3 separate regions of the Homo sapiens genome follow, and all the other regions are linked to region 2. The links come from fine-mapping of genetic effects on gene expression. A gene starts in region 2. Each other region holds a variant in brackets. All regions are shown on one strand. Distances are from middle to middle.

Region 1 (2,752 bases), 100 kb after region 2:
CCTCCTGTACCTGCACCCCCCCTGCATCTGCATCTCCTCCTGCAGCCCCGTCCCCTCCTGCACCTGTGTCCCCTCCTGCACCCGCGTCCCCTCCTGCCCCTGCGCCCCCTCCTGCACCCGCGTCCCCTCCTGCACCCGCGTCCCCTCCTGGATCTGCCTCCCCTCCTGCAGCCCCGACGCCTCCTGCATCTGCGTCCCCTCCTGCAGCCCCGACCAGTCCTGTACGTGCACCCCCTCCTGCATCTGCATCTCCTCCTGTAGCCCCGTCCCCTCCAGCCCCGCTCCCTCCTGCAGCCCCGTCCCCTCCTGCACCTGCATCCCCTCCTGCATCTGCATCTCCTCCTGCATCTGCATCCCCTCCTGCATCTGCATCTCCTTCTGCAGCCCCGTCGCCTCCTGCATCTGCGCCCCCTCCTGCATCTGTGTCCCCTCCTGCAGCCCCAACCCCTCCTGTACCTGCACCCCCTCCTGCATCTCCTCCTGCAGCCCCGTCCCCTCCTGCATCTGCGTCCCCTCCTGCACCTGCGTCCCCTCCTGCATCTGCGTCCCCTCCTGCATCTGCATCTCCTTCTGCAGCGCCGTCCCCTCCTGCAGCCCCGCTCTCTCCTGCAGCCCCGCTCCCTCCTGCAGCCCAGTCCCCTCCTGCATCCGCGACCCCTCCTGCAGCTCCGTCCCCTCCTGCGTCCGCATCCCCTCCTGCATCCGCGTGCCCTCCCACATCCACGTCTCCTCCCGCAGCCCCGCCCCCTCCTTTATCTGCATGCCCTCCCGCAGCCCCGCCCCCTCCTTCATCTGCGTCCCCTCCTGCAGCCCAGTCCCCTCCTGCAGCCCAGTCCCCTCCTGCATCTGCGTCCCCTCCTGCAGCCCGGTCCCCTCCTGCATCTGCGTCCCCTCCTGGAGCCCAGTCCCCTCTTGCATCCGCATCCGCTTCCCCTCCCGCAGCCCCGCCCCCTCCTGCATCTGTGTGCCCTCCCGAAGCCCCGCCCCCTCCTGCATCTGCGTCCCCTCCTGCAGCCCTGTCCCCTCCTGCATCTGCACTTCCTCCTGCAGGTTACCTGAACGTGCTGGTGAACAGCCAGTGGAAGTCTCGCTGGTGCTCTGTCAGGGACAATCACCTGCACTTCTACCAGGACCGGAACCGGAGCAAGGTGGCCCAGCAACCCCTCAGCCTGGTGGGCTGCGAGGTGGTCCCAGACCCCAGCCCCGACCAC[C/T]TCTACTCCTTCCGCATCCTCCACAAGGGCGAGGAGCTGGCCAAGCTTGAGGTACCGCCGGCCTGCAGGGGGAGCAGGGCCAGCCAGGGTGTGGCGGTGGTGGCTGTTTGCTGCCAGTCTCCAGGACTGTAATGCTACTAAGGGAGAATCAATGTCCCCGCGTGTTATTTTTACTTCGTTTGCCTGAGATTGTTTGCATTTTTAAAAATTTCCATTCCTTTTCTGACCTCAGAGTAGTTGCGTTATAAGAGTGGAACCATGCGCTACTTCCTGCACTTAGGGCAGAAGGAGTATTTTTAGTTCTCTGAGCTACTGGAAAAGCTGCTGGGGATTCAAAGTGGGTGTTGTTTTGTTTGGGTATCACCAGCTGGGAGAGCCTCTAGGCCCAGTACGTAAAAACCACACTGTTAGAGCTTATCTGGGGGAAAAAATTCGCTTTGTGATACAATTACATTCCTCTCGCTCCCCATCCTCCCTTTGATGTGATGTTACGTTTACAAAAATAAGAAGTGACATAACGCTTTGCAAGCTGCGGCAGGCGGAGACCGAGTCCCTTCCACGCATGGAAGCACACACTTGCCCGTGAATGTCCGTTCACTTAGTCTTTGATGTGGAGGTCCTCATCCAAACTTTGCTCCAATCCTGCCCTCTGGTGGCTGAAAGACCCACATCGCAATTGCTTCCCAGGGTCCAGCTTGTAGCTTATATTCATCCATTCAGAGGTTCCCCATCAACAGACATCTTCTCAGCACAGGAATATGGTGGACAAGAGCAATATGGACTCCGTCCTTGTGGCACTTACATCCTAGTTTGGGAGTGTGATGTTATTCAGCAAATTACCCAGCCAATCGCTGGGCTACAATGGCTGGAAAGAAGTGGGGAGGGTGCTATAGACTTGTACTGGGGTCTGGGTGACAGGCTGGAGCGGGAGGGACAGGGCTTGATCCTAGGAGCAACGGAGCCCTGATGGCTTTCAGGGGAGGGCGGCAAGCTCAGATCGGGGTTTTGAGATGCTTCCTCCAGCTACTGGGGTGGGAGTGGATCGGAGGGGGCAAGAAGGGACCTGCTAGGAAGCTGTCGCAGCTGTCCAGGGCAGAGACGCAGCCTGGACTAGGGGAGGCCCATGAAAAGCTGTATTTAGAATCCAGTTGAAACTAAGTGGGGGCCGGGCATGATGGCCCACGCCTGTAACCCCAGCACTTTGGGAGGCTGAGGCAGGTGGATCACCCGAGGTCAGGAGTTTGAAACCAGCCTGGCCAACATGGTGAAACCCTGTCTCTACTAAAATACAAAAATTAGCTGGGTGTGGTGGTGGGCGCCTGTAGTCCCAGCTACTTGGGAGGCTGACACAGGAGAATTGCTTGAAGCCGGGAGGCAGAGGCTACAGTGAGCCAAGATCCCACCGCTGCACTCCAGCCTGGGCGACAGAACAAGATTCTGTCTTTAAAATAAAAAAAAACTGGGAAAAGGAAACCAACTAAATGTCAAATTCTGCTCATCACGGCCTCTTTGATGAAGAGAATGTAGCAGCAAACGTGATG
Region 2 (2,752 bases):
TTGAGCAAATTGCTTAACCTCTTTTCTTTTTTTTGAGACGTAGTCTCACACTGTCACCCAGGCTGGAGTGCAGTGCGCAATCTCAGCTCACTGCAACCTCCATCTCCCAAGTTCAAACGATTCTCCTGCCTCAGCCTCCCAAGTAGCTGAGTTTACAGGCCCCTGCCACCAAGCCCAGCTATTTTTTTTTTTTTTTAGTAGAGATGGAGTTTCACCATGTTGGCCAGGCTCGTCTCGAACTCCTGACTTCGTGATCCGCCCGCCTCAGCCTCCCAAAGTGCTGAGATTACAGGCGTGAGCCACCGCGCCCAGCCGTAGCTTCTTCACCTCTATGAAAGAGATCATAATAATACCCATGTCACAGGGATATCGGGGAAACTAAAGGCAGTGATGTACAGCCCTTAGCGCCGTGCCTGGCTTGTGGGGAGGGCTCCATCCACATTAGGTGCTAGTATAACTAAGAAAAATATTTCTACATGCTGTTGGGAGGGGTTGGGGGAGGTCTCCAAACATCACAACTAAATCTGCGATTCCAAGGAAGAATTAAGAAGTCTTTTAGAAAACCACCACTGCCAAATCTTCCTTAATTGTTCCTTCAAGGAAGCTGGGGAACTTAGGTAACCAACCAGGCACCCAGCACAAACCGTGACTGAGATTTTAAAGTGAAAACTGAAAAAGTTTAAAAGAACACATAGATCTCTGGGGGGAGCACGGAGAAGACTAGGTCGCATTAAGGGCCTGGAAGGACCGGTGGCAAAAGGCAAAGGATGGAAGTGTGGCACTTCTGGATGGAGGCAGTGCAGGGTGGAGATTCAGAGCCATGGCCGAGCTTCCTTATGGAACCGGCGCCACCCCTCCAAGGCGGTCAGGTTTACTGGGCGCCCCGGAAACGGCACTCCCTGACTTGTGGCGTTGGCCCTGGAAATTCAGGTAGAAAGCAGCAAGCAGATGTTTTCACACACCCTGAAGTGTGCGCGATTGGCAGCGGCTGCCCAGAGAGGTTCCAAGAGAGTGGGAGCAATCCCCAAAGAACCCGGAGCAGGTTTGGTTGCCCGCCCCGCTGCCCTCCTCGCCCCTCCAGGAAGGCCTAGGGCAAAAGCGCGCTGGCTCGGGAGCCAAGCGCGAGGAGCTCTAAGCCAGTCTCAACCTCCTAGCTTGGACCTCGGTCTCCTCCTCCAGGCATTGGGTTTGCAGCGGGCAGGGGTGTGGGAACAATCTTGGAGGCCCACCCAAGCCCGGCCTCCCGGAGCCTCCCCCAGAGTTTGGGAACGTCCCAGTCTCGTTCCCTCTCGACGCCCCCGGAGTCAAGACGTGAAGGGAGTGCCAAGGCGGCCGGGGGCGGCGAGCGGGGCCGCGGGCGCGCACCGACTCAAGAGCCGACTGTCAGCCTCGGCGGGCCGGAGTTCTCCGGCGCTGGGACAGGGGCGCTGGGACAGGGGCGCTGGGGGCGAGCCCTGGCGGGGGCCAGGTCCGAGGACCCTGGGCGCGGCGGCCCCGCCAGGAGGTCCGGCCGCGAGCGTGACCTCACGGGGAGGGGCCAGCGCGGCGGCCTGGGCGCTGAGCCGAGCGCCGGGAGAGCAGCGCAGAAGCCGAGCCGCGAGGAGCGCACTCCGTGGCCCCGATGGAGCGGTACAAAGGTGAGGGCGCGGGTTCCTCGCGCGGCGCACACCCACTCCCTTTCGCCCAGCGACGCGGAGGGCAGGGCTAGGACTCGTCTTGCCAGGACTCGGGATAAGCAGAGCCCACTGCCCCCACCCAGCCCGGACCTGGGCCTAAGAGGGGGCGACAGCGGCGCCGCGGACTGGGCGGGTGGGCTCCTAGGTGGCTGCTGCGGCCCGAGCCCTTTGATCCTCCCGGGCGCGGAAGGAGGGGGTCGTCAGTGGGGGGCGTGGCGGGGCTTCTCACCTGTTGCAGGAGAGAGGGTGAGCCCGGCACCCCACTCCACCCTCAGTCCCGCCGCACAGGAAAGATGCCTGGGGCCGAGGAAGCCCCGAAGAAGGTGGGAACCGTGCTGAGCTGCTGGGGGCAAAGGGTCGGGCTGTTGAGTCCTTTCTCCCGGGCGCCCGCCGGGCTAGGGGCTTCCTGCTCCCGGCAAAGCGCTTGGGCAGTGGAGTGGGCGCGCAGACCCTCCCCGGGCTAGGTGGGGCCTCCCCAAACGTCCTGCCGTTCGGGTCATCGTTTCTCTCCAAGCCCTTCTTTGCTCCCCCACACCAAGAAAGGAGGGATGCGAGGGTCGGGGGCCGAATGGAGTGCCCGGCAGGTGGAGCTCCTGGAGGCGTCCGGACCCGAGGGCTTAGCTCAGTGCGCAGCTGGGCGAGCTTTGGGTTTGGCGGGGGCCAGGATCTCCGCCAAACCCCGGTGGGCGGGCCGTCCCGGGTGCGCCGGACGCCCAGCTTAGCACCCACACTCGGAGCCTCGGAGCTGGTCTACAAGTCTCGATTGCGGTTCTTTTGAAAAGGGAGTACAGGGAGTTGCCCCTTAAGAGGAACCCTGCGGGCGCTCCCCCCTCCCCCATCCTCCTGCAGACCCCTTCCCTTTGGAAAAGCCTCTTGCCTTCTCTTTTGCTGGACCGGTCTCCGCCAAACCTGCGGGAGGAAATGCTGCTTCTATATTTGTTTTCCCCTGGGAGAGAGTAATAAAAAGAGAACGCTCAGATTCCCAGGAATCTCACTCCCGGAGGGCTCTGATCCCTGAAACTGACATAAAGGGACCTGTTGGGACCGGCTTCCCTAAAGTAGTCTTGTCTTTCACT
Region 3 (2,745 bases), 26 kb before region 2:
TTTTTCTGTTTGCGGCCCAGGAAGCAGTGGGAGGTGGTGGCAGATATGCTTTGCATATGGATTGTTATGTTTTTATTTGGGCAAGTTTAATCATGGAAAACTCAAAAAGAAGGGGGGAAATGGTCAGTTTAAGCCAAAAGAAACTTTCTAAACAATGTATAGGTACACAGCAAAATTAAACAAATCCAACAATTTCTGAAGCTTAGTGTAATTGAGTGGTGGTTGTTATTCAATAAAATTATTCCCAAAAGTGTTTCTCCTAAGAGTGCAGTTCCCATGAGTCACTTCCTGAACCCATTGACCAAAGGTGGACAGAGACAATCCTGTAGACCTTGACATTCAGAAAGATGTGAGCTGCTTACTGATCATATATGCATACGTTTCTTTACAGCAGAGGAAACCATTGTCCACAAAACTGATGTTCTTTTGGGGTTTTATGTACAGACTTGTCCAATCATGTGTGTGGTTCCTGCGAGTTGCTGATGACTCCGCATTGAAGCTCTCTGAGTTCTTTGATTTTAAGTTGGGTTTATGGAATTTTTTCAAATGTTGGAAGGTGTGTGGTTCTTCCTGCCCTCCCTCCCCTTTTGGAAATATGAAAGCAAATGTTTAGAAGAATTCCTTTTGAAAAGCTGTGTCGTGTTCCCTGTGAAACTGAGCAGGTGTGTGTTGGCGCGCTAAGTGCCACATGCTTGTGTGTAGAGGAGGAGGTGGCCCTGCCGGCTCCGCGCTGCTGTGCCTGTGATCCCTACCTGCTCCCCGCTCCTGTTGCCAGCAGCACTCACTGCACTCCTTTGTCATATACTCTGCATCACTGTCATACTCACAACTTCGTGAATAAAGTTGTGTGCTTTATTCGTAGATGCCTCCATACCTGTGTTTCATTTCTCGTTCCCTGGCTCCCTTTGAAGGTCTATCTCATTTTAAAAAGCACCAACGCAACTTCCAATAATCAAAACAAAATCAGAATGAACCCAAGGCTGTGGGAAT[A/G]CATTTTTATCATGCAGGTGGAAAAATGCAGCAAATAACAGCAGGATATTCCAGGACTGTGTGTCCAATAACCCAGACCATATTGACCAAGCTGTCCAAAGGAAAGAAATGTTTAGTAGAGCCATTACACTGTGCTGTGTCATAGGTGTTTGATTTGGTTTGTGACACAGCAGGGATAGTCCCATCATTTCGACAAAGCTGGGGATTTGAGGAGGTTTGAAGCTTCTGAGCCACTATGAGTGTGGGCCACTTTTTAGTAAGAAGCTAGAATGCAGTAGGAGAAAAGCATCCTTCCAATTTTGGGCATCCCCTGCATGATCAAACTTTACATGAAGAAATTGTAGATGTTAACTTCCTTGTTATCATCACTGCCAAGATTTTAGGCTTGCCAGAAAGTACAAGGATCTATGTCCAAGATGGCCCACTCCAACGATAGCCTTCCTTCTGCTCTGTGTCTGCTGAGACTACCCAAGACCCAGTCACACTGGCATTCACATGACCCTCCCCTGGAAGCGGGATGCAGGTTGTTTTCAAGACAGTTGGCATCTTTAGTTCACCACCATGGAAAACAGGCCGGGAGACCTCAGCTCAAGGTCTGTGTTCTGCTCATCTCTGCCTCCACCCGTGGGAAAGCATCCCTGCTGTGGTCCATAATTACCATAGCTAGGGGTCATCTCCAGTCCTTATGAACTCTCTGTGGGATTTGGCTCTGGTGGCCACCTCTCCAATGGAAGTTGACCCGTGCCTCACTTCAGTTGCTAGACTTTAGTCAGCGAATCTCACACTGCCTTTGCTGGGAGTGGAAGGATCTCGCCTCACCCACTGCTCAGCTGCCTCTCCCCCAGTACCCTGCCTTCAGATCTTGCCAAACCACTGCAAGTTCCCAGGACATACCATGCTTGCTCCCTCCCAGGCAGCTTTATCAAAGGTATTTCTTCTTTACGATGCTCAACTCTTCAAGGAGGTGGTGGAGCAGAGAGGACCTGGCCCCAGGGAAAGGAAGTAATGATCAATGTTGACTCTTTAAAAACAGCTACCCATCAGCTCTTTGGAGTTACCCATGTGAATTTCCCATGGGCTCCATTTGTTCCAAATTAAAGACAAGTCCAAGTTCACACCCTCTCTATGAGCCTGTCTTAATGGGCCCAGCCCAATCTGCATGTAATTCTTTGCATGCCTCTAGTTGAACCTCAAGGTCGGTACTTAGCAAGTGTTGCCTCGAACTGCTAGCTGCGTGGGTTTCTGCTCTTCAGTTGAACTGTAGTGAGATCTCTGTGCTGAGCGCCAGGCACCCTAGCTTGGCATAACTATATTGCTCGTGAGAGCCTTTCAAAGTAGACAATTGTAGCTCCACTATACAGGTAGGAAACCAAAGCTCAGAGTCTAATCAAACATGCCCAATCACTCAGCCAGTGAGCAGCAGAGCTAGAATTCTCCAGGTCTGCCCTTTTCAGATCCCATGCTGTTATCCTCCACATCCCATTCCCTGTGACTTTCTTAGGGCAAGGACTGTGTCCCACATTCTGAATCTCCCAGGGCACACTGCACAGAATGGGTTCTTAGTGTGAGACCGGCCAGCGCCCTTCAGTGTGGCCATGAGCCCCAACACTACCACCAAGGCGCATTTATGAACAGTTTGGGGGTTACTCACTGTCTGTGTGTCTTGGAGCCCGTTTAGCCTCTCTTCAGCCTCAATTTGTTCATCTGCAGAATGGACAAGATAATAATATCCATCAAAAGACTGTTGCCAAATTA

Direction of the effects. Alleles are on the strand shown, and positions count from the first base shown. SD is a standard deviation of normalised expression in the study named. Not every link is listed here.
For the expression in pancreas of the gene that starts at base 1,575 in region 2, allele G in region 3 goes with a lower level than allele A (large effect, 1.2 SD a copy in GTEx).

What was found. PIP is the estimated chance that this variant, and not a neighbour inherited with it, causes the effect.
Region 1: its variant is fine-mapped to the expression of AFAP1L2 in whole blood (TOPMed, PIP above 0.99). The same link has a PIP of 0.9 or more in blood mononuclear cells.
Region 3: its variant is fine-mapped to the expression of AFAP1L2 in pancreas (GTEx, PIP above 0.99).

Annotation. Positions count from the first base shown.
Region 1 is chr10:114,303,229-114,305,980 of GRCh38, reverse strand. AFAP1L2 (actin filament associated protein 1 like 2) reads left to right here. Exons shown (of 19, transcript NM_001001936.3): 11 at 1,051-1,262. Among named protein-coding and RNA genes, the nearest start is that of VWA2, 65 kb to the right of the region's middle. RefSeq lists a silencer at 963-1,012. The variant C/T (reference allele first, on the strand shown) is at 1,212.
Region 2 is chr10:114,403,325-114,406,076 of GRCh38, reverse strand. It overlaps AFAP1L2 (actin filament associated protein 1 like 2), which reads left to right and starts at 1,575. Exons shown (of 19, transcript NM_001001936.3): 1 at 1,575-1,637. The coding sequence starts at 1,622. RefSeq lists an enhancer at 1,040-1,540 and silencers at 1,494-1,573, 2,371-2,420.
Region 3 is chr10:114,429,228-114,431,972 of GRCh38, reverse strand. It overlaps ABLIM1 (actin binding LIM protein 1), which reads left to right. Exons shown (of 23, transcript NM_002313.7): 23 at 1-861. Among named protein-coding and RNA genes, the nearest start is that of AFAP1L2, 26 kb to the right of the region's middle. The variant A/G (reference allele first, on the strand shown) is at 991.